3 separate regions of the Homo sapiens genome follow, and regions 1 and 3 are each linked to region 2. The links come from fine-mapping of genetic effects on gene expression. A gene starts in region 2. Each other region holds a variant in brackets. All regions are shown on one strand. Distances are from middle to middle.

Evidence for each region.
Region 1: its variant is fine-mapped to the expression of CLIC4 in blood mononuclear cells (TOPMed, PIP above 0.99).
Region 3: its variant is fine-mapped to the expression of CLIC4 in whole blood (INTERVAL, PIP 0.96).

What each region holds. Positions count from the first base shown.
Region 1 is chr1:24,710,941-24,719,119 of GRCh38, forward strand. No RefSeq gene overlaps it. Among named protein-coding and RNA genes, the nearest start is that of CLIC4, 30 kb to the right of the region's middle. RefSeq lists an enhancer at 3,759-4,958. The variant A/G (reference allele first, on the strand shown) is at 3,166.
Region 2 is chr1:24,741,166-24,749,344 of GRCh38, forward strand. CLIC4 (chloride intracellular channel 4) reads left to right here and starts at 4,282. Exons shown (of 6, transcript NM_013943.3): 1 at 4,282-4,460. The coding sequence starts at 4,389. RefSeq lists enhancers at 1,773-2,378, 3,591-4,196, 4,197-4,802 and silencers at 3,884-4,593, 4,694-4,853.
Region 3 is chr1:24,765,131-24,773,309 of GRCh38, forward strand. The region is part of intron 1 of CLIC4 (chloride intracellular channel 4); the gene reads left to right. Among named protein-coding and RNA genes, the nearest start is that of CLIC4, 24 kb to the left of the region's middle. The variant CATA/C (reference allele first, on the strand shown) is at 4,025.

The sequences.
Region 1 (8,179 bases), 30 kb before region 2:
TCCCAAAGTGCTGGGATTACAGGTGTGAGCCACCACGCCCAGTCCCCCCATCTTTTTTTTTTTTTTTTTTTGAGACAGACTCTCACTCTGTCACCTAGGCTGGAGTGCAGTGGCATGATCTTGGCTCACTGCAACCTCCACCTCACGGGTTCAAGCGATTCTTCTGCCTCAGCCTCCTGAGTAGCTGGGACTACAGGCATGTGCCACCACACCTGGCTAATTTTTGTGTTTTTAGTAGAGATGGGGTTTCACTATATTGGCCAGGCTGGTCTCAAACTCCTGACCTCGTGATCCACCCACCTCTGCCTCCCAAAGTGTTGGGATTACAGGCGTGAGCCTCTGCGCCCGGCCTCGGCCCATGTTCTTACAGTAAAAGCTTTGAGGAGTCTGAAACCCAAATTCCATGTATTCATATCCTTGTTCATGCATTCATGTATTCATTCAATTTGCTCACTTAGCCAGCCATTCAGCAGGTAGAGTTATGCTTAAGAGAGGACCCTAGAACCAGACTACCTAGGTTCAAAATCCAGCTCTATCTCTTACTAGGTGCATGGCCTTGGGCAAGTGACGTCATCTCTTTTTCTTTATCTCCAAAGCGGGGATGATAATAACAGTACCAATATTATTGTAAAGATTAAAAGAATGAATACCTGGAAAATTCAGACCACTGGCTGTGGTGGCTCATACCTATAGTCCCAGCTACTTGGGAGGCTGAAGCAGGAAAATCGCTTAAGCCCAGGAGTTCAAGGCTGCAGTGAGCTATGATTGTGTCACGGCACTCTGGCCTGGGTGACAGAGAGAGACCCTGTCTCTATAAAACAAAATCAGGCCGGGCATAGTGGCTCACACCTGTAATCCCAGCACTTTGGGAGGCCAAGGCAGGCAGATCACCTGTTCAAGAGCAGCCTGGCCAACATGATGAAATCTCCTTTCTACTAAAAATACAAAAAGTAGCCGGGTATGGTGGCACATGCCTGTAATTCCAGCTACTCCGGAGGTTGAGGCAGGAGAATCGCTTGAACCCAGGAGGCAGAGGTTCCATGAGCCAAGATCATGCCACTGCACTCCAGCCTGGGAGACAGAGCGAGACTCCATCTCAAAAAGCAAAACAAAACAAAACAAAAATTCAGATCAATGCTTGGAACATAAAAACCTATAGATATTACTTATTAATACTCAATACTTTTTTTTTTTTTTTTTGAGATGGAGTCTTGTTGCTCTGTCATCCCGGCTGGAGTTGCAGTGGCACGATTTTGGCTCACTGCAACCTCCCCTCCGCCTCCCAGGTTCAAGCAATTCTCCTGCCTCAGCCTCCCAAGTAGCTGGGACTACAGGCAAGCGCCACCACACCCGGCTAATTTTTGTAATTTTTTTTTTTTTGAGACGGAGTCTCGCTCTGTCGCCCAGGCTGGAGTGCAGTGGCGTGATCTTGGCTCACTGCAACCTCCACCTCCTGGGTTCAAGCAATTCTCTTCCTCAGCCTCCCGAGTAGCTGGGACTACAGGCGCCCACCACCATGCCCAGCTAATTTTTGTATTTTTATTAGAGATGGGGTTTCACCATGTTGGTCCGGCTGCTCTCGAACTTCTGATCTCATGATCCACCCACCTAGGCCTCCCGAAGTGCTGGGATTACAGGCGTGAGCCACCGCACCTGGCTAATTTTTGTAATTTTTTTTTAGTAGAGACAGGTTTCACCATGTTGGCCAGGCTGGTCTCGAACTCCTGACCTCAAGTGATCTGCCTGCCTCAGCCTCCCAAAGTGCTGGGAATACAGGTGTGAGCCACTGTGCCTGGCCTCAATAAATAATGTTTTGAGCACCTACTATGCAGCTGGCTCCATGCTGCACTGAGGATACAGTAGTGCAGAAGACAGAGAGAAGACCTGCTCCATGACACTGACATTCTAGTCCTTATTCAGCACCAAGATCCTAAGTTTCCTTGGTTTTCTTTCGGATGTCTTGTCCCATTTGATTTTTAGAAAGACCCCATGAGGTTAGAGCAACCTTACCCCATTTGACAGAGGTGGAAACTGAGGCCCAGACAGGAGAACCGATGTCCTTTTTGCACAGTGCCTCAGCCGGCTGCCATGAATATGTGTGTCCGTTTGACAAAGGCATGGGGATAGGAGTGGTCAGGAGGCTCCATGTCTCCCATCAGCCAGCTGTTCTTCCTCTGCCTGGAGCCCTTCCAGTGACCCAGCTCTCAAATGTGGCCAACCTCTTGCCCCTGAGCGGGATCTCTGTAGCCCTCTCATGGCAGAGGTCCTGGAGGTGCGAAGTAGGGGTACCGTGCCCAGGCTGCCCCTCTCCCCACTTGGTCTCCTACGTGCAGTGGACATTTTTCCACTTGGTGTGACCACACAAAAACTCCACCCAACATCATCTTCATGGATGCCTAAAATTCCACCATCCATGATTCATTCTTTTAGGTTGAACAACTGCTCCCAGGAATGTCTGAAATTCCCTGGAATCAGTTGCTAACACCTTAGTGAGCTAAAAACTGGCCTTACAGATAATCATCTACCTTCTGTAGACAACTCTGGACCAGAAGAAGAAGTGACTTGCCCAAGGACACGTAACCTTGGGCAGTCAGTCAGTGGCAAGCCAGGGCCAGAGGCTGGCCTTGCTCACACATTTTCCTGGGACAGGAGGAACAGAGCCATATACGATGTTCCCTTGAATCACATCTACTTTGCAGCCTGCAGAGAGCCTCCCCACCCAGAGCCCACTTGATTCAGGCAATCCCTATGAGCTGGGCATGAGTCCCTCTCCCAGGCACAGTGGCTCACATAGACATGGGGATGCCACAGGGACCTAGCCCAAACGTCCATTGCTGGATCCCTGGAGTGAGGTTTCTGGTCTATCCAAGGCCTAGTTTAGCTCCTCCTTCCGTTCTACCGGCAGCCCCAGATTCTTCCACTGCCTTCCTTTTTTTTTTTTTTCAGTAAGCTCAAGTTGGTTTCTCTTGCTTCTAAAGAACTCTAATTGAAATTCCCACTTTACAGATAAGGAGACCAAGATGTGAAGAGGAAAGGTGAATGCTAAGGTGGAGCCAGGCCTGCAACCCAGGTCTCCTATCTCCTGGCCCAGGCTTTTGCCTCCTGCCACGTTGCCTACTGTGAGCAGTTGGGTCCCGAGGAAAGAGAAGAGCAGAGAGGAGTGTG[A/G]GTGCATAAGCCTGAAGATAGAGGGTACAGTGGTTCATTGAGAGATTTTGGAGTCAGCAGATCTGATCTTACACTTACCTGTTATGAAGATTTTGACAAGTAATTTCATCTTCTCAGAGCCTAACTTCCCAGCTATAACATAAGAAAAAGAGGACCTTCTTATAGTAGACACAGACCCAACAGGAGCAGAGTGGGTGAGTAGAGCACTGGGTGGATTTTAGCCTTCACATACTCATCTATGGCTGGGTACCTTTGTGCAGTGAACAATCTGGGCAACAGTACATGACAGCCCTGAGAATAATGATAATACCTGCCTTACATGGATGTTATAAAAACTAAATGAGATAAGGTATGTGAAGTTCTGGGCACAGTGCTTAACCACTTAATAAGTCTTCAATAAACAGTAGCTAAGTATTTTGACACCATCACCCCAGGCTCCGTCTGGAAGGCTCTGGAAGGCAGTCTGTGGTGAAATGGCAAGTCCCAAACTCCCCACTTTCTTACCACCAACTCCCAAACCTCATAATTTTCCTGGATGGCCTCAGTGTCCTGCCTCTCCCTCCAGAGTTCTGTGGGGTTGGCTGGACCACCAGGAACAGAGTTCTGGCATTTTCTATCACATCACAGCTTTCAGTTTGGTAAAAGCCCCCGATATATCAGGGCCCAACTGGCAAGTCCCTCCTGCTCCAAAGTTTTGAAGGTTCCAGGGTCAAGCCTTGGCCCCCAGCCTCCTCCCTCAGACCTGAGGCCGAGCATAGTATATTCAGGGGCCTAGCTGCAGCAGGTCCTGAAACCTGCTACAGCAGTCCAAGCCCCCTCAGTCCTCCTCTTTCATTTCTGAGCAGGCCCAAGCACCCAGCACCAAGAATGGCTGGACTTAGGGACTCTGGGAGAGCCACGTGTGCCAGGCTAGTGCCTGCCAGCTCTTAGGCTGATCTTACAATGGCTCCATTCACCAGGGAGAGGAGCTGGCCTGCCTGGAGCCCACGGGGTGATGTTCCAGGCCCCAGGGGGATGGGGTGGGAGGTTAGAAACTAAGAAAGCGGTTGTTAAGGCTGGGAGGGGTGAAGGTGCCCAGCCTCCACCACTACCAGCACCTTATGACAAGGTGACCACCTCACAACTGGGACCATGAGAGATCAGATTCTCTGGGGCCCAGTGGGGGTGAGTAAGTGCGGGGGCAGATGGAGGGAAAGAGTTAGTCATGGGCATTGCGGGGCAGGGAGGCTGGGCCCTTAGCCCACGCTCTTGCTGGCATCTGAAGGCCCGTAGCCAGGGGGTGACGTGGTCTTGGTCCTTGAAGCAGCCCTTCCAGTAACAACTGGGGCATCCCAGCCAGGCAGCCTTTGCCTCTCCCCCTCCTCTCCATGCCTGCTACCCCAGGTCTCCAGGATCTCTCAAAGAGATTTTCATCTACAAACATCTCTGTCTCCATCATCTCTCCCTTCTTCACTCACAAAGCCCAAGTTGAGTCCAAACTGCTCTGTCCTCAAATTAAAGCCCTCACTGACTCCTCACTACCTAAAAGACCATGACCTCAGTGTTCAGGCTGTCATCTTGCCCACTCAGCATCCATTCCTTTTCCATATGAGCTCCAAGTCTCTCTATTTCTGGGGAAGCACCTGGGCCCCCACTCTCAGTCCATATGTTTCGAGTGGAGCTCAGGCCTAGAATTAGACATGTGACCCCAACTTGATCAATCCGATTGTTCCACCTCCACTCCCACCACCTCTATACAGCAATTGGTTTAGACATAGTCACGTGACCTAAACCAGTCCAATGAAATTCAAGTTCAGAACCTGTGTATAAATGTTTGGAGAAATGGGCCGGGCGCTGTGGCTCACGCATATAATCCCAGCACTTTGGAAGGCCAAGGCGGATGGATCACCTGAGGTCAGGACTTTGAGACCAGCCTGGCCAACATGGTGAAACCTTGTCTCTACTTAAAATACAAAAAATTACCTGGGCGTGGTGGTACGCACCTGTAATCCCAGATACTCCGGAGGCTGAGGCAGGAGAATTGCTTGAACCCGGGAGGCAGAGGTTGCAGTGAACCGAGATCACGCCATTGCACTCCAGACTGAGGGACAAGAGCAAGACTTCATTTCAAAATAAATAAATAAATAAATATCTGGAGAAATGAATCTTTCTTTGCCCTGGGCTTGGAGCCTCCATTTGGAAAGGGCCTGCTTCAGAGTGAAGCCAATGCAAGGAGAAGCAGAGAGGAGCAGAGAAGAAGAGAGAGAGGCCAAGTCTTGAAAGCATTTATTTGAGCTATACCTGAAGCAAATACACTAATATACTCTATTGTTTTTTCTTTTTAACTTTCATTCTCAAAGGAGGTGAATGTTCAGTTTTTTGAGTCAACGGATTTTCTTTTTTCCTAAGCTTCTTGGAATTGCGTTTTCTGTCTCTCGCAACCCAGGAGTTCTGACCAACAGAAAGGCCCTCCTACTCTGACCTTGAACCACTTCTGCAGTCTCATCGGCCCTGCCTGGGGCATATGGAACTCTCCACTCCCCTGAATGCCCCATGTGCCTTGTGATTCTCTGCACTTGCTCCTGCTAGGCCCTCTGTCTGGGGTGGATTCACTTTTCCTGTTTTGAACTTGCTCAGCTTTTTTTTTTTTGAGACAGAGTCTTGCTCTGTCGCCCAGGTTGGAGTGCAGTGGCGCAATCTCAGCTCACTACAACCTCCGCTTCCCGGGTTCAAGTGATTTTCCTGCCTCAGCCTCCCAAGTAGCTGGGACTACAGGCATGCACCACCATGCCCGGCTAATTTTTGTATTTTTGGTAGAGATGGGGTTTCACCATGCTGGTGAGGGTGGTCTCAAACTTGAATCACTCAGGTGATCCACTCGCCTCGGCCTCCCAAAGCGCTAGGATTACAGGCGTGAGCCACCGTGCCAGGCCTTGCTCAGTTCTTAAAGGTCCAGTTCAAATGCCAGTTCCTCCATGGAGCCTTCCTCAACTGCTTCCCAGGGAGAATTTACTATTTGCACCTGTCTTCAGCACTATAGAGCCATTATTTCACTGTATCATAGTGATTCACTTGCCCATCCATCTCCCCCACTGGATTGTTGAGCTTCATGAACTGTGTGTGCTTTCTTTCTCCTTTCTCAATACCTAGTACCTGACCTGGCACAGAGTAGGCGCTCGGAATCCTGTGTCCAGTGACTTGAATATCCATCAGACTGGATGTTAGAGCTGTGGGGATGTGGCACTCACCCTGGAACTACTACTAGTTGCTATGCAGCCCATTCCCATCTCTGTGAACAACCTGAATTGTCCACCTTCCTTCAATCTAAAAATTCTACTCATCCATCAAGGAGCTCAATGCCCTGAGTATGTGAGGAGAGGGCTGCTTTGGAGTTGGACAGACTTGAGTTCAAGTCCTGGCTCTTCCATGTGGTACTCATGTGACGTAGGCCAAGTCATATAACTTTCTTGAGCTTCAGTTTCCATAAAATGGCAAACACATGGTGCTCATTATGTGCTGTGCCCATATCCTAATACTTCTAGTTCTTTTATCCTCCCTATGAGGTGTAGGTACCAGTCTCGTCCTCTTCCCAGTGATAAAGAGACTGAGGTCCAGAGAGGTTAAGTAAGCAAGGCCATGACTAGGACAGAGCCTTGGACAGACCTAGTGGCCGGGTAGGGGATGGAACCCAGGCAGCCTCTGCTCCAAGTCAATGCTCTTACCCCTCTACTGTCCTGCCTCTTGAAAAATGAGGATAGTACTAGAACCTTCTTCTTGGGGTACTTGTGAAATTTCACCTTCACATAATGTGTGTGGAGGGTACAGTAGAGCTGAAGCCCTTGCTGTTGGCACCGCGGTGTTCTCAGCCTAGTGGAGTCTAATCTTTCCAAAGAATCCTGGACTTTAGGGTCAAGCTGGAGGGAGGGGGGAGGTGGCTAGTCTAGCACAGCATCCACTTGGCTGTGGCTGCTTGGCAGAAGGACCCTGCTCATAATGCCCATTTGTCCAGACCGTAGTTCAATGACTTCTGCATTCTCTGCACGTACACCCTAGAAGGGATGGGATGGATGGGGGATGGCACTGGCTCTAGCCTGGCCAGGGAAAGCCAGCTGGGAATTAAGAGGTCTTGGGCAGCAGGACAACCCTGTGTCGAGAAACCTCAACTCTGCCACTGCCTAGAAGTGAGACCCTGGGTAAATCACACAACCTCCCTGGGGCTCAGTTCCTTCATCTGTGAAATGCGGACCTTAATGGTACCTCCTTCATCGGGTGGTGTGAGGAAGAAGATGTATTTTGCAAGTATGTTGTGGATATTCAGTAAAAGACAGTTAATGATCAGCCTCATGCTACTGTTTGGTTAGCCAGGCTGGCTGGGGTTCAATCTTGGCTCTACCATTTCCTAGTCATGTGATCTCAACTAAGTTACTTAACTTCTTGGCTCAGTTCCTCCCTGGTAAATTGGGAACAATCAAAAAACAATAATACAATAGCAGCTATGTGCCCCTCACAAAAAAGCGATCCCCAATTTTTAGTGATCCCAAGCAGCTCCCTGCCCCTCCCCAAGGCGTCAGTTTCCCTATTTGTTCAGGGAATTTTTTTTTTTCTTCTTGAGACGGAGTTTCACTCTGTTGCCCAGGCTGGAGTGCAGTGGCATGATCTCAGCTCACTGTAACCTCCGCTTCCCAGGTTCAAGCGATTCTCATGCCTCAGCCTCCCAAGTAGCTGAGATTACAGGTGTGCGCCACCACACCTGGCTACTTTTTGTATTTTTAGCAGAGATGGGGTTTCAGCATGTTGGCCAGGCTGGTCTTGAACTCCTCACCTCAAGTGATCTGCCTACCTCGACTTCCTAAAGTGCTGGGATTACAGGCGTGAGCCACCGTGCCTGGCCGGAACTTTTTTTAAAATAGAGACAGGGTTGGGCTCTGTCACCAGGATGGAATGCAGTGGTGCAATCATAGCTCCTGGGCTCAAGGAATCTTTCCGCCTCAATCTCCTGAGTGGCTAGGACTACAGGCATGTACCACCACACCCA
Region 2 (8,179 bases):
AATGATCCTATTAAATATTAATAGGTACTAATTTTAGATCCATGTTTACAGACGAGAAAATGGTACTAATTTAGATCCATTTTTACTGATGAGAAAATGAAGCACAGAGAGGTTAAGTAAGTATCCTGAGTTAGTAAATAACAGAAGCAGGATTGGAACCCAGGCAGTCTGGCCCCAGAGTCCATGTGCATAGCAGCTCATTCTGCTGCTGAAATTGCAGAACTTTGGGCTGAGACAGTCAGCGAGCAGCACCACAGAGTTAGAAGTGGGAGGAGGAAAGTGTCATCAAGGGAGGCTTACTGGAGGAAAACCTGACCCCCTGTGTAGGGGCAGTCATAAACACAAACCACCTGGCTTCCCAGACTGGAAGAGCGTGACAATCCAAATGTCATGTCAGGGGTACATGAAACCATAGGATAAACATGGTACAGTCACTCACTCCATAAGCTATTTTTTTTTTTTTTTGAGACAGAGTTTCGCTCTTGTTGTCCAGGCTGGAGTGCAATGGCGCAATCTCGGCTTACTGCAACCTCTGCCTCCCAGGTTCAAGCGATTCTCCTGCCTCAGCCTCCCAAGTAGCTGGGATTGCAGGCATGCACCACCATGCCTGGCTAATTTTTTGTATTTTTAGTGGAGACGGGGTTTCTCCATGTTGGTCAGGCTGGTCTCGAACTCCCGACCTCAGGTGATCCATCCGCCTTGGCCTCCCAAAATCCTGGGATTATAGGCGTGAGCCACTGCGCCCGGCCCACTCCATAAATTTTTATTGTGTACCATGAGCTGTCCTCTGAGCCAGGAATATAGCCATAAACAAAACCAAACAAAAAATCCCTGCCCTTATGGCATTTATGTTCTAGTGGGAGAAGACAGACAATAAGCAGATAAATAGGTAGATATGTATCAGAGGGTTGTAAGTGTTATGAAGAGAGATAAAGTGGAGGGTGGAGTGAAAGATAGCAACTTGCAACGTTGCATAGGGTGGTATTTGGGGAGAGCGCTCTGAGAAGATGACATTTGAGCAAAGAGCCAAAGGAAGTAAGGGAGTGGGAGTTGCAGAAATTCTGGGGGAAGAATGTTCCAGAGAGGGGGAAGAGCAAATGCAAAGGCCCTGAGGCCACAGTGTGCTTCGCATATCCAAGGACTAGAAAGGAGGCCAGTGAAGCTGGGGTGGAGAGCACAGGGGAGAATGGTAGGAGATGAGGTCAGAGGGGTGTGTGTGGGAGGAGACAACATGTCTCCACCCATCTTAAAGATTTCTGTGTGCTATAAAAACAAGCCTGAGTAAAGAATGTAAAGCAGGCATGCAATTCAAAATTCGAAGAGGAGACTTGACTGCTATGTGGTTAGGGGGCCTCCCCTGCATAAACATCCTCTTTCCCTTTCACCCACTCCCAGGACTGACTGCCCATCCATGGGAGCCATATGAGGGCGGAACTTGGGAAACTGTAGGTGTGACTGAGACTACGTCTAAGCACAGGCTCTGGGTCTGAGCCTCTTCCTGGGGGGCTTCCTGTTGGGTAGGAGGAGCCCAGGAGATCATCACCACCTCAGGGCTCTGTGGAGAATGCCCCTGGCTTCCTCCTAGCTAAGATCTCTGTTTAGTCAATGAAGCCTAAAGGGCCCTGGTCTGTTCCTCCTTCCATACCCTGGTGCTGTGAGGCCAGTTGGAGCCTGTGAAGGGCAAGTCACCACCGGGAATATTTGCTGCCTCTAACTCAAATTCTTTTTTTTTGAGATGGATTTCGCTCTGTCGCCCAGGCTGGAGTACAGTGGCGTGATCTCGGCTCACAGCCACCTTTGCCTCCCCGGTTCAAGCGATTCTCCTGCCTCAGCCTCCCGAGTAGCTAGGATTACAGGCATGTGCCACCACACCCGGCTAATTTTTGTATTTTTAGTAAAGATGGGGTTTCGCCATGCTGGCCAGGCTGGTCTCGAACTCCTGACCTCAGGTGATCCACTCGCCTCGGTCTCCCAACGTGTTGGGATTACAGGCATGAGCCACTGTGCCCGGCCTCAATTTGATCAATTCTCAGGTACATTGAGTTTCTGCTGAATTGTTTTTTGGCTTAGATCTGCTTTGAACTGATTCACCATTTGGTTCCTTTTTGGTAGGGCAGAGAGGGTGGATTCTGGAAGGAAACTTTGCTTCAGTTCATGATTCTATGAAAAATTAACACGGTTCAGTCCAGAGTCTAGTCAGTCACTTCAGGATTTTCATGGTTCAAGCCCCCATCTAAGGGGAGCCTCCTGGAATTTATTTATTTATTTTCAACGAACTAGCCGGGCATAGAGAGAGTAGAATATGATGCCACATTCTAGCCTGCAGGGGTGGTAGGGACAGAATAAGTCTCAATGCAGTTAACAGCCATACTGACGGAGCAGCACATATGGTAAGGCAAGAATCAGTAATTAGCCCCACCCACTTCTAGATAATGAAACTGAGGCTTAGGGGTTTTAAGGACACTGCCTTGTCAGATTTGAACTTAAACAGTCAGACTACAGAGCACGTGTTCCTGACCACTGGGATACACTGGCTCTTTCACAGAGCCTCTGTGAGAAAATTTGAGCAACTTACTTTGGGCTGGCAGAGGAAGAAATTGCAAGTTTCACTGTATTTTCATGCCTACGTACAATTTGTTCAAACATTCTGGTATGTGCTAGGCACCGAGGATATGGAGACAAACCTCCCATGTCTGGGCCTCCTGGAACTCACTATTTATCCCAACCTGGGAAGTTGGGAGGAGTAGCTGTGAGTCAAGTATTATGGAAAGTCAGAAAAGGGCACAAGTAATTGTTTCCAGAGGAGGTGAAACTTGCCCCAGGCACTCAACAGCAGCAAACTAGGACCAGGTGCCTACAATCTCAAGGCAAGCACAGCTCTTGCCCTCGGGGGCTTAAATCCCAGGGCAGTTTAACTGGTTTGCGGACCACCTACTTCAGAATTGTCCTGGTGCTTGCTAAGATGTGGATTTCTCTTTTTCCCAGAGGATCTGGGAAACACAAAAAGCGGGGCTGCGTGTAGCACCTAGGTGATTCTGATGCACACTCAAATTTGACAGGTGAGCCGGGGGGAAGAAATGGGTGTGGGCAGTGGGGAACAAGATGGACAACGACTTGGAAGTCCTTAGTGGCCTGCAGGCACTGAGATTGCAGTTCAAGATCTTGAGCTTTGGGAGTTGTTACTCTCCAAGGGCTAGCTCAGAGCCTGAAACACAGTAAGGTTTCATAAATATTTGTGAATATGCGCCCGGCGCGGTGGCTCACGCCTGTAATCCCAGCACTTTGGGAGGCCGAGGCGGGCGGATCACGAGGTCAGGAGATCGAGACCATCCTGACTAACACGGTGAAACCCCGTCTCTACTAAAAATACAAAAATTAGCCGGGCGCGGTGGCGGGTGCCTGTAGTCCCAGCTACTTGGGAGGCTGAGGCAGGAGAATGGCGTGAACCCGGGGCAGAGTTTGCAGTGAGCCGAGATCGCGCCACTGCACTCCAGCCTAGGCGATAGAGCCAGACTCCGTCTCAAAAAAAAAAAAAAAAAAAATATATATATATATATATATATTTGTGAATATGCTGGCTGCCAAGATCGAAACGATCAGGAGCGTCAAAGGGAAAAACGAAGTCAGAGGCAGAAGAAAAAGGTGTTCCCCAGGCGATGAAAACTTTCCAGTAAGTTGTCTTGGAAAAGGCAACTCCGCGTAATAGAGGGACTTGGGGAGGTAGCCGCTGCGGGAAAGGGCGATGAGTCCTGGGGTGCTGCAGCGGGGGAGTGGGTAGGAGGCGCCTCCTAGCTTCCCCAGGGCGGCCGAGGCATGAGGTCACCTGGCACAGCAACAGCAGCAGCTGCGGAGGACGCGCAGGCGCTGCGGCGGGAGGCAGTGTCAGGCTCGGGCCCCTGGGGAATTCCTCCCCTCCTTTCCCCCCCGCACCAGTCCCCTAGAGAGGCGTACCCGGGTCCCGCCCGCCAGAGCCTGAGCTTTGTACCGCCCACCAAGGCCACGCCCCCTACCAGCTGTGGGGCGCCGCAGAGGTCCTTTCTTCGGCTCCGGAGCGGTCCCTCCGCCTTCCCCGCTCGAGGCCACGCCCCCGTGCTCCTGCCGCCTTATTTTCCCCGGAGAGTCCCGAGGCGCCGCGCCTTGGCCCTGCCTACAGCCCGAGGCCCCGCCCCCGGCGCCCCTCCCAGCCGTTTGAAGCGGCTCGGGCTGCGGCTGGCTCAGAGTGGCGCGGGGGGCGTGGGGCGGTGCTGAGGAGCTGAAGCCGTGGCCAGCTCGACGCCGGACAGTCCAGCGAGCAGCACGGCGGGAACCGGCAGCCGGAGCAGTCCCGGAGCAGAAGCAGCAGCAGCAGCAGCAGCCCTCGCCGTTCGCGGAGCGCAGCCGAGCCGGCCATGGCGTTGTCGATGCCGCTGAATGGGCTGAAGGAGGAGGACAAAGAGCCCCTCATCGAGCTCTTCGTCAAGGTGAGCGCTCGCCTCGCGGTCCCGCCCGGCAGATCCCCCGGCTCCCTCCCGGCTGCGGGGAGCGGCGTCCCGGGGCTCTCCTGAGGCGCCCCCGCTCGGCGCCAGCACCCGTCCCGCTGCGGGCACCCGCGCCCCCGGCCCATTGTCTGGGGGCCGCCCGCGCCTTCCCGCCTCCGAGGGCCCGTCGAGGGGTCCGGGTTGGGGACCCGGGCGGCGGCCACCGTCTCCAGCGCGTAGGCATCGGCGGACGCCAGACCAGCGTCCCGCGCCCGGGTGGGTCGGGAAGAGCCCACGGGCGGGACTTGCCTGCCCCGGGGCCCCAGCGCCGGGCGCGCGCGGGTCCTGTCACCACCCCCCGCCCGGGCGCCGGGGCCCGGCCCCACCCGCTCCCCAGCGCTCCGGTCCGCCGCCCGGAGCCCGAACTGCGGCCCGCCGCCCGATGAGCTTTCAAACGAACTTCTTTGAACGCGTTTTTGAAAAAGCATTTGCTCCCCACTGGTCTGAAACGGAAACTTTAATTTTCGATGCAATCTTAAACAAATTTACCAAAGAGCAGGTGCTCTTGGACCTTCGGAAAAGACCGAGATTCCCAACTTGTGTTTTTCTGTCTTGGGCATTTACTGGCTTTCTCGTTTCTCAAGCGCGGAGTGTTCTGTATGATGCAACATTTTGGCTTCTCCCCCCGGCGTTGCTGCTTCGGGAAGGATTGTGTGTGCCCTTTTGTTTTGAAAGAAATTGAGGGAGAGAATTCTTAACTTGCTTGGGCTTTAAAGGGTTGGTTTTCCCTTGTGTCTTCAGCTTTCATGTGTGGAATTTATTTGCTTACACATACTACCCCTCTTCCTTTGCTTTTCTCTTTAATACTTTTTATTTTAGCAAAGGAGAGAGTCGAAGTTATAAACATCTGGATCCAGCTCCTTCCCTCAAAACTTAAAAAAAACACTTTGAGCTTCTTCCAGCCACTTAAAAAGCCAGGCTCATTCAGAGCTAGGCAACATACCGGAAAGTAAATGGTCATCTAGAACTATTGGGTTCTTTTTTTTCCCCGAGTTTTTACTTTAAAGAAAGGACATTTCAGGATGTGTTTAAGAGATAGAGAAGGGCTGGGCGCGGTGGCTCATGCCTGTAATCGCAGCACTTTCGGAGGCCGAGGTGGGAGGATTACTTGAGTCCAGCCTGAACAAGATGGCGAAACCCTGTCTCTACAAAAAAATTCAAAAATTAGCTGGGAGCGATGTTACGCGCCTGTACTACTCTGGAGGCTGCGGTGGGAGAACTGCTTGAGCCCGGGAGGTCGAGGCTGCAGTGAGCCACGTCGCACCACTGCATTCCAGCCTGGGCGACAGAGCAAGACCCTGTCTCAAACAAAAGAGATGGAGAGAAGAAATAATCTGCATTTACCTCTGCAGTCTTCAGTAATGACTGGAACAGTGTTTGCCTTAGGATTTTCTTTCAATTGTCAATTTTCGATTTTTTTTTTTTTTTTTTTTTTGGTCCAGGGAACTGAAACAGCAGACAGGTATAGAACCCCCAAAATATCAAAGCGTTTCGGTTACTTTGAGTGGCAGATATAGTACTTTGAGATGCGTAGAATGTAGGAAGGAACCTGAAATACAAGAAAGGAAGGAGGCCGGGCGCGGTGGCTCACGCCTGTAATCCCAGCACTTTGGGAGGCTGAGGTGGGCAGATCACGAGGTCAGGAGATCGAGACCATCCTGGCCAACATGGTGAAACCCCATCTCTACTAAAAATACAAAAATTAGCTGGGCGTGGTGGCGCGTGCCTGTAGTCCCAGCTACTCGGGAGGCTGAGGCAGGAGAATTGCTTGAACCCGGGAGGCAGAGGTTGTGGTGTGCGGAGATTGCGCCACTGTACTCCAGCCTGGGCAACAGAGTAAGACTCCATCTCAAAAAAAAAAAAAAAAAAGAAAGAAAGGAAGGGTGGTGGGTGGAAAACAGCATGGAGAAGGGAAACAAGTGGGCCAGAGATGAGTTAAAAAAAATTTTTACTGAGTGAGGAATAGGAAGGAATTTCCATAAACTCAAAAAAAGTGCATCCATGAATAATCTGTAAAACATGATACTTAACGGTGAAACTTTAGAACAGTATTAAACTTAGAATAAGCTACTATCGGGCCGGGTGAGGTGACTCACACCTGTAGCATTTTGGGATGCCGAGATGGGGAGATCACTTGAGGCCAGGAGTTCGAGACCAGCCTGGCCAACATGGTGAAACCCTGTCTCTACTAAAAATAGAAAAATTAGCCAGGCATGGTGGTGGGCCCAGCTATTCGGGAGGCTGAGGCATGAGAATCGCTTGAACCGGGGAGGCAAAGGTTGGAGTGAGCCAAGATCAAGTCACTGCACTCCAGCCTGGGCGACAGAGTGAGACTTCGTCTCAAAAAAAAAAAAAAAAAGATAAAGCTATTATCAGTTATGGCTCTATTCAGTATTCTATTATTCTATTGGAGGAGCTAATCAAAGAAGACAAGAAAAATTAAGTATCTGAATTAGGAAGAGATCAGTGATTAATGCCCTGCTTACTATTAATTTCATCTTTCAGTTAGAATAGCAGAGGGGCGTGTGCAGTTTTCCAAACTTGAGTCACTTGCATCCCCTTTCTGTTTTTCATATTTGTGTTGAGAACCACTGAAAATCATCCTTCCTACCACTAGTTGTAAGCCTTTCTCATTGGGCTTGGTGGCAGAGAATCAGGGTTCAAGTCACAGTTCTTTACTCCTTGGTTGGGTGACCCTAGGCAGTTTGTTTTCACTCTTTAAGCCTTGTTTGTCTCATTTGTGAAATAAGAAATGTTTTCTGCTACCCAGTGATTCAACATAGGCAAACTTTGCACTGATACAGATCAGGTTTTTTGTTTTTTTTTTTTTTTTTTTTTTTAATGAGATGGTGTCTCGCTCTGTCACCCTGGCTGCTGGAGTGCAGTGGCGCGATCTCGGCTCACTGCACCCTCTGCCTCCCAGGTTGAAGTGATTCTTCTGCCTTTGCCTTCCGAGGAGCGCATGCACCACTACGCCTGGCTGATTTTTGTATTTTAGAAGAGACTGGGTTTTACCATGTTGGCCAGGCTGGTCTCAAACTCCTGACCTTAAGTGATCTGCCTGCCTTGGCCTCCCAAAGTGCTGGGATTACAGGCTTGAGCCTCTGTGCTTGGCCCCTAGACCAGTTTGTTTGAAAGGGGAAAAAAGGACAGGTAAAATGTGGTAAAGGGCATTCTTGATCTCTTCTCAAAACCTACGTGTGGGAAATGCAAATGGGGGAAATACCCTTGTAAATATAGTTATTTTGAAAGCAGTGGACCAGGTGTGGTGGCACACTCCTGTAATCCCAGCCTTTTGGGAGGCGGAGGGGGGTGGATCACTTGATGTTGAGACCAGCCTGGGCAACATGGCGAAACCGCATTTCTACTAAAAATACAAAAATTAGCCACGCATAGTGGTGCATGGCTGTAATCCCAGCTACTCGGGAGACTGAGGCAGGAGAATTGCTTGAACCTGGGAGGCGGTGGTTGCAGTGAGCCGAGATAGTGCCACTGCACCCCAGCCTGGGTGACAGAGCAAGACTCCATCTCAAAAAATAAAAATTAAAAAAAAAAAAAAGAAAGTAGAGAGGGTGCAGAGGCTGTGGTTGTCCAGAGTGGTATGTTGAACAGTGTTAACCTGCCAAGAGGTATCTGAGTTTGTAAAAGAAAACTATTTACAG
Region 3 (8,179 bases), 24 kb after region 2:
TGTTCCCATTGACTGTTTTCTGTTGGATTTCTTAAATGCATGAGATAGAAGAAGTATATATGGAAAAGCATTTCATATTTAATTGAAATAATATATACATTTATGGAGTGCTTTCTATGTGCCAGGCACTGTGTTGACTACATCTATGAAATATTAACTCATTTGATTGTTACTCAATAAAATGTTTGCTGAAGGAATATATAGAAGCTTTTATTTTTTTCCGTGCACAGGCTTAATTTCAGAGGAGGTTGGGAGGAAAAGAAGAACTAAAAGATCACATGATTGGGAAAAAGCAAATGCCTAACAAGAAGCCAGAGAAATAGGTCGAGAGGGTGATGCAAATGACTGGGCTCAGTTCATATTTTAGATTGAAATAAACAGATTTACTTGTTTTTCCTTGCAAAGTAAAAAAGTTTTAAGGGAGAGTCTGCAACTGTGTTTTGACCCTGAGCATGTGGCTTGATAGCCATTAAGATTAGGAGTGTTGAGAGCAGCTATTGTCCTGATGACTCAGCAGGAACCCCTGTGTTAGATTATACCGTTGCCTCCGTATTGCATGTAAAAAGTTCTTTATATCTTTTGAAATATTTGAGATCATAGATCCCAAAATCAGAGCCAGGGATGATTGTTTACTTGAAGTATCATTTGTATTTTTCTTTCCTTCTTTTTCTTCTTTCTTTCTTTCTTTTTTTTTTTTTTGAGACAGAGTCTCGCTCTGTGACCTAGGCTGGAGAGCAGTGACGCCATCTTGGCTTACTGCAACCTCCACCTTGTGGGTTCAAGCAATTCTCCTGCCTCAGCCTCCCAACTAGCTGGGATTACAGGCGCCCACCATCATGCCCGGCTAATTTTTAAAATTTGTTTAAATTTTAATTTTAGTTTTTTTTCTTTTGAGATGGAGTCTCGCTCTGTTGCCAGGATGGAGTGCAGTGGCGCGATCTCAGCTCACTGCAGCAGCCTCCACCTCCCGAGTTCCAGCTATTCTCCTGACTCAGCTTCCTGAGTAGTTGGGACTATAGACGTGCCACCACGCCCAGCTAATTTTTGTATTTTTAGTGGAGACAGGGTTACACCATGTTGGCCAGGATGGTCTCAATCTCTTGACCTCCTGTTCCACCCACCTTGGCCTCCCAAAGTGCTGGGATTACAGGTGTGAGGCACCACGCCCGGCCTATATTTTTAATAGAGACAGGGTTTCACCATGTTGGCGAGGCTGATTTTGAAATCCTGACCTCAAATGATCCACCTATCTTGGCCTCCCAAAGTGCTAGGAATATAGGCATGAGCCACTGCACCTTTTTTCTTTTTTTTAGATATCAGGTCTTGCTATGTTGCCCAGACGGTTTTTTTTTTTTTTTTTTTTTTTTTTTTTTTTTTTTTTTTTTTTTTTTGAGACGGGGTCTCACTCTGTCACCCAGGCTGGAGTGCAGTGGCACAATCTCAGCTCACTGCAACCTCCGTCTCCTGGGCTCAAGTGATTCTTGTGCCTCAGCTTCCCTAGTAGCTGGGACTACAGACATGTGCCACTGCAACTGGCTAATTTTTTTGTATTTTTAGTAGAGACATAGTTTCGCTATGTTGGCCAGGCTAGTCTTGAACTCCTGGCGTGAAGTGATCCGCCCACCTTGCCCTCCTGAAGTGCTGGGATTATAGGTGTGAGCCACCACGCCTAGCCAGTATTTCTGTCTAGGTGCTGAAATAGTTTCTTTTGGAATTGAAGACCATTTGAATTAATATTTCAAGTAGGCAATTGAGTCATCATAATGGAAGACTGGATCTTTAGTATTATGCTGTTAGAGTATGCAGTGTCCAGTCTTTTGGCTTCCCTGGGCCACACTGGAAGAAGAATTACCTTGGGCCACACAAAAAATACACTAACAATAGCTGATGAGCTAAAAAAAAAAAAAAAAAAAAAAAAGAAAAAGAAAAGAAAAACCAAAAAAACCTTATAATGTTTTAAGAAAGTTTATGGATTTGTGTTGGGCTTCATTCAAAGTGGTCCTGGGCCACATGTGGCCCACGGACCTCAGGTTGGACAAGCTTGATGTAGTGGCTAAGAGTGTGGACTCCCGAGCCATGTGGCCTGTGTTTGAATCCTAGTTCTACCCTTCACTAGTTGCCTTGGTGTCCCCACTGGGGTAATCTTGGGCTTTTGTAAAGATTATAAGAGTTAATATAAGAAAAGCCCTTAGAGTCTAACTCATAGTAAGCCTTGTTTGCTTACTATTTTGCCTTTAGGAATGCAGAATTAAGACCATGTTGGCTTGGCCTATGGTTAGTTTATTATATTCAATATACCATATGTGGTTTCAACCTTCAGGATTAGAAGCATCTGCCAGACTGCCACTACCACCAGGTGGGAACTTTTCATTCTTTATCAAAAGAGCAGGGTTAGTACAAAAAAAGTTCAAGGTTAAGCTTGAGTTTGCTCTTGAATTAACTTCAGTGAACCCTGATCCTGTTGACACTTACTAGGTAACTAAAGGACAGTCAGATTGGACTCTGCCATCTTAGTCCATCGGCCTCAGCAGCTCTTGCTGGACTTGTAGCTAAAGCTTGAGAGTCCATTAGTAGTGAGAATGTTTTTCTTTTTTTCCTCTCTCTCTTTTTTGTTAATGTGAAAGTGCAAAAGTAAAGAGGAATAATCTATGACATAGGATCTTATTGGTTCTGTACAAATACTCTTAATTAAAAATTTTTAATTAAAATTATATATATATATATTTTTTTTGGCATGGAGTTCCGCTCTGTCGCCCAGGCTGGAGTGCAGTGGCATGATCTCGGCTAACTACAACCTCTGCCTCCCAGGTTCAAGCAGTTCTGCCTCAGCCTCCCGGGTAGCTGGGATTACAGGCGCTTGCCACCACGCTTGGCTAATTTTTGTATTTTTAGTAGAGACGGGATTTCTCCATGTTGGTCAGGCTGATCTCGGACTCCTGACATGAGGTGATCCGCCCTCCTTGGCCTCCCAAAGTGTTGGGATTACAGGTATGAGCCACCACGCCCAGCCAAAATTTTCATTTTTTTAAGATATGGGGATCTTGCCATGTTGCCCAGGCTGGTCCCAAATTCCTGAACTCAAGTAATCCCCTTGTGGTGGCGTCCCAAAGTGCTGGGTAAAAGTACTTTTGAATTATGGATTTTGGCTTCCTGTGCTACCAAATTTCACTATTTCTTGATTTTTGTGGTATTCACCTTTACAACTGAACAGGTCATATATTAACTAGCCTTTATCTAATGCTTTCTTTAAAGGAAATGTAGACGTGCTTATATTTTTAACACATCTACATTTCTCTTAAAGAGAAGAGATTAAGCTCTTTTTATTTAATTTGTCTGGAAGAAGTTGAGATAGTGTAGATCTACAGGTTTTATATTTAGTAATTTTTAAGGAGTAAAAATGAAGTCTTCTAATTTTTCTAGACTCTATCTAAGATTATTGTTTTTAGACTTTTTCATCTTATACCACAATGAGATGATAAAGCTTAAAACATTAACATGTCGGCCGGGTGCGGTGGCTCACGCCTGTAATCCCTGTACTTTGGGAGGCTGAGGCGGTCAGTCAGGAGTTCGAGACCAGCCTGGCCAAGATGGTGAAACCCCATCTCTACTCATAATACAAAAATTAGGAGGCATGGTGGCATGTGCCTGTAGTCCCAGCTACTCGGGAGGCTAAGGCAGAAGAATCACTTGAACCCAGGAGGTGGAGGTTGCAGTGAGCCGAGATTGTGCCACTGCACTCCAGCCTGGGCGACAGAGTGAGACTCTGCCTCACCAAAAAAAAAAAAAAAAAGAAAAAGAAAGAAAACTTTAGCATGTCTGTAATTGGTAGATATAATCTCTATCATTTATTTAATGATAATTAAAAATAGCGGGGCATGGTGGCACATGCCTGTGGTCTCAGCTACTAGTGGGGCTGAAGCAGGAGATTGAGGCTGTAGTGAGCCACTCTGATTGCACCACTCCACTCCAGCCTGGGTGGCAGAGTGAGACTCTGTCTCAAAACAAAAGAAAACAAACAAAAAAA[CATA/C]ATGTAAGAATCATGAAGTGACTTTAAAATCTTTATTTTATAATAATGTTATAAGTTTTCTGAAGCTACTTAATTTATCACTATACAGAATAAACAGATATATAAAAAATGATCAGTAAGTTTTTGTTTCCCTACTAAAGCCAGAATAATGGTCATGAGGTAATAGATAGCATTGGGTGCTTACTATGGGCCAGGCACAGTGTGCCAGCCGTTTGCATGTGTTAGCTAATTTAATCCTCATATAAACTTTGAAATAGGTGCTATCAATACTGTTTAACACATGAGAATTAGAGAGATCATTGTTTGGGTATGGTTGCAGGGCCAGTAAGTAGCAGTACTGTGATTTGTACTAACGTCTTTGGGATTTCAGAACCTGAATCAATAACTTTGTTTATGTTATTTTTCTCTATTTATTTGAAACTTGAATGCTTTCCTAACAGAATTTCTTATGTTCTGTTTTCAGTCACCCTGAAAAAAAAATTCTGAGAATATTTAAGGATATTTCTAAAACATACTAACAACTAGTGAGCCTAGATGGTTCATTAGATGACTTTGGTTGCTTTCAGTTCTCTTGGTAAAATTTGAAAGGCAACTAAAATTTCCATTACCTCACCTCGTTGCATTTTGGGGGCCTGGTTAATTAGTATTTTATAAAGCACTTTAGAGGGTTTATTTATAAACTTGTTAAGGAACCTGACTTGAATGTCTTTTTTTTTTTTAAGGCAGAGTTTCACTGTTGCCCAGGATGGAGTGCAGTGGTGTCATCACAGGTCACTGCCACCTTGACCTCCTGGGCTCAAGTGATCCTCCTCCTTTAGCTCCCTGAGTAGCTGGGACTTGCAGTGCCACCATGCCCAGCTAATTTTTTTTAAATTAATTTTTTTGTGGAGATGAGGTCTCACTGTGTTGCCTAAGATGGTCTTGAACTCCTGGACTCAAGTTATCCTCCCACTTTGGCCTCCCATTACAGGCATGAGCCATTGTGCTTGGCCTCACATATTTTGATTTTAGGATTGTTTTCCAATTGAGAAATGTCTAAATGGTTCAAGTTTAACAAAAATCATATACTAATTTGTTAATTATTTTTCTGTGAGTTCTTTTCTTTCTGCCCTCTCCCTTTCTCCCTTCCTCCCCCTTCAGAGGTTGGTAGAAAAAAAAAAAAAAGGCAAGGAAGTTTCTTTTTGTGGAGAGAGGAAATGACTGTTGGTTCAAGACTTTATCCATATTAGGTATAAACTAAATATAGACGTGTAATCCAGGAGTGAAGTCACATCTATAAAGTTTCTTAAGCAAAGCTAATGAGATCAGCCAGTGCTTTTGGATCTGTTTTTTCCCCCCTTGCTTTTGGCTCACTTACCAAACTGATTAGTCTTATAGTCTGCCTGCCTTTGCTTCTTTAAAAAAAGAATAAAAAAATTATAAGGAATCTTTCTGTAAAACAAGCACACAAATTTTTAAAAAGTTGCTTTGTATATGAAGCATAGTCACTTATGCCTCCCTTTGAGGGGAGGTTATAAATAAATTAGCTTCTTTAATTTCTTGACCTTGTCATTTTCCTCACACCAATTCTTCTTCTTTTTTTTTTGTTTTTTGAGTTGGTTTTATCCTTGAGTCTTTGTCACATATTTTTACTGTGAGGCTGGACTCATCTTTGTAAGTTGTAAGAAACGTGTTTTACTTAGTATTTTCTTGGTTTATTCCATTTTTAACCATTAAAGCAGATCTCAGTATGGCTAAATGGTAATAGGATTTCTTCTGATTGGCTGGTTAGAGAGATTGTAATAGAACGGAATGATGGAATAAATCTGCTTCTGGTCACAGCACATGTCCTTCTCAAATAAGGACTTTGAAAAGTCCCCCAAAGCATTCTTACAATAATTATTTCCAACTCTTGTGTTCCTTCTTAGAGCCCTTTGCAAGCATTCCTAAACACTCAAGCCCTTACGAACGTGCTATGCTTCTGAAGAGAAGAACTATATACACACATCTGTGGCGCATCTTACTATAAATACTTTGGAATACAACTAATTGTGTAAAAAGTTTAGCTTAACATATTTCGGGGTTTTAGGGATCAGTTCATGAAACTAAATGTTCTCCAAGCCTAAGTTGGAATCTGTTCTGAATCCTTCTCTGACCATGTTGTTCCCTTAGCAGAACTACTCTTTCCTACTGTTTGGGGCAGTTTGTGCATTTTTATATTCTGCCACTCATCTGAATCACCTTTAATTACATTTTTGTTCCAGGCTAGAATGTAAATTCCAGGAGATCAAGGATAAGGGATTATTTTCTTTTTTCTTCTTTTTATATTTTAAATTTAAAAAATTATTATGTTCTTCTAAAGACTAAGGGACTATTTTCTTCATCTTTTATATCTACCCCCTACCACAAACCTTTATATATAGGAGATAATTCATTAATTCAGTAAGCATTTATTAGTGTTTTTTGGCAAATTGGTGTGCATAGTATAGGAATATAAGCATGTAAGAGAGAATATATTAAATATTTTCTGTTATTGTGTTCTATATTACCTCATAGTAAAATACCAGAGTTAAAAGTAGTATTCAGTTATTGAACTTGAGACATGTAATTGGGGTTTTGTAACTAGCTACTCACTATATAGCTATTGGTCTAAACCTAACAGATTGGTTTAGAGAACTAGAATATTATGTAACTGGAAGGCCAGGTTCAAGTCCTATGTGTATCCTAATTGATCTGCTACCTCATCTGTCAAGTGGGTGTATTTCTTGGAGGTGATGTTCAGTCCAGTTTGTATTATTTTATATGCCAAGGTAGCCTTAGGCTTGGCTTAAGCTTAGGCTTAGGCAGAAAGTTGAGCCCTGAGATTCCAACGTCAGATCCAGAGAATTAAATTCTCATAATTAGAAGCAATCTATTAGATAACAAAAATAGAGCCAATACAAATTCTTCATGATAATGGAGGCAGTTTGCCAAAGAAAGAAAAAATATTTCAGGAGTGAATTCTTTGACCCGAAAGAATATATTTTATTTCCCAGGTGAGCTCCTGAAAGAAAGTTTAAGGAAAGATTTTGTTTGTTGTATCTAAAATAAAGCAGACACAGAACCATTCTTCTTCTTCTTTTTTTTTTAAAGCCAGTCAAATTTATAGAATTTTCCTTCATCATATTTGAGTAACCTGTGCATTGAAATCCGAAGTAAAATATTTCAGTAAGAAACATCCTGCTATGTTATACTCTTCAGATATTTGAAGTTTTAGGCCAGCAAAGAAGATAGACAAGAATTCTGAATATTAACTTTCACAGCTGAAATACAGTGTTGAATATATAATTTTTGCGGAAACTAATTTTGTAATGTATATATATAGAGAGAGACGGAGTCTTGCTCTCTCGCCCAGGCTAGAGTGCAGTGGCACGATCTCAGCTCACTGCAGTCTCCGCCTCCCAGATTCAAGCGATTCTCCTGCCTCAGCCTCCTGAGTAGCTGGAATTACAGGTGCCCGCCACCGTGTCCAGCTAATTTTTGTATTATTAGTAGAGACGGGGTTTCACCATCTTGGCCAGGCTGGTCTTGAACCCCTGACCTCATGATCCACCCACCTTGGCCTCCCAAAGTGCTGGGATTACAGGTGTGAGCCACAGCGCCCGGCTGATTTTGTAATATATTTTAATGAACATTTAAAAATACATAATCCAAAATTAAAACAAATGAGGAAGATTCATTAATTTATTCATGTTTGTTGAGAGCTAATATTTTATACTATTAATAAAATATTGTATAGCATTTTCATGATTGCAGTTTTTCATTGTTTATGGTCATCTTCATTAATCCATTGTTCTTAGTCATTTAGAGGTCTGAAATTTGGCTTTAAGCAATATTGTGATATATATCCTTACAGCCAATTTTCTGTGCATGTCAAGCAATTGTGTTTTAAAAGTCCCCCACATATCTCATTTACCCTCTGAATTCTTTATTTTCCTTTTGTTTACTTAAACTGTAATCTCTCTTTTTTCACACTTCACCTGGAATGTAATCTCTTAAAAAGAAAAAACTTTCTGCAGAATTTAGGTTTTTTACAAAGGGAAAATTGGATTTTTGACTCTACTACTGAACTCTTGGTGGAGTGTCTAGTTAAAATTGGTCTGAGAACTTGATGAACAGAAATAGCTGCCTTAA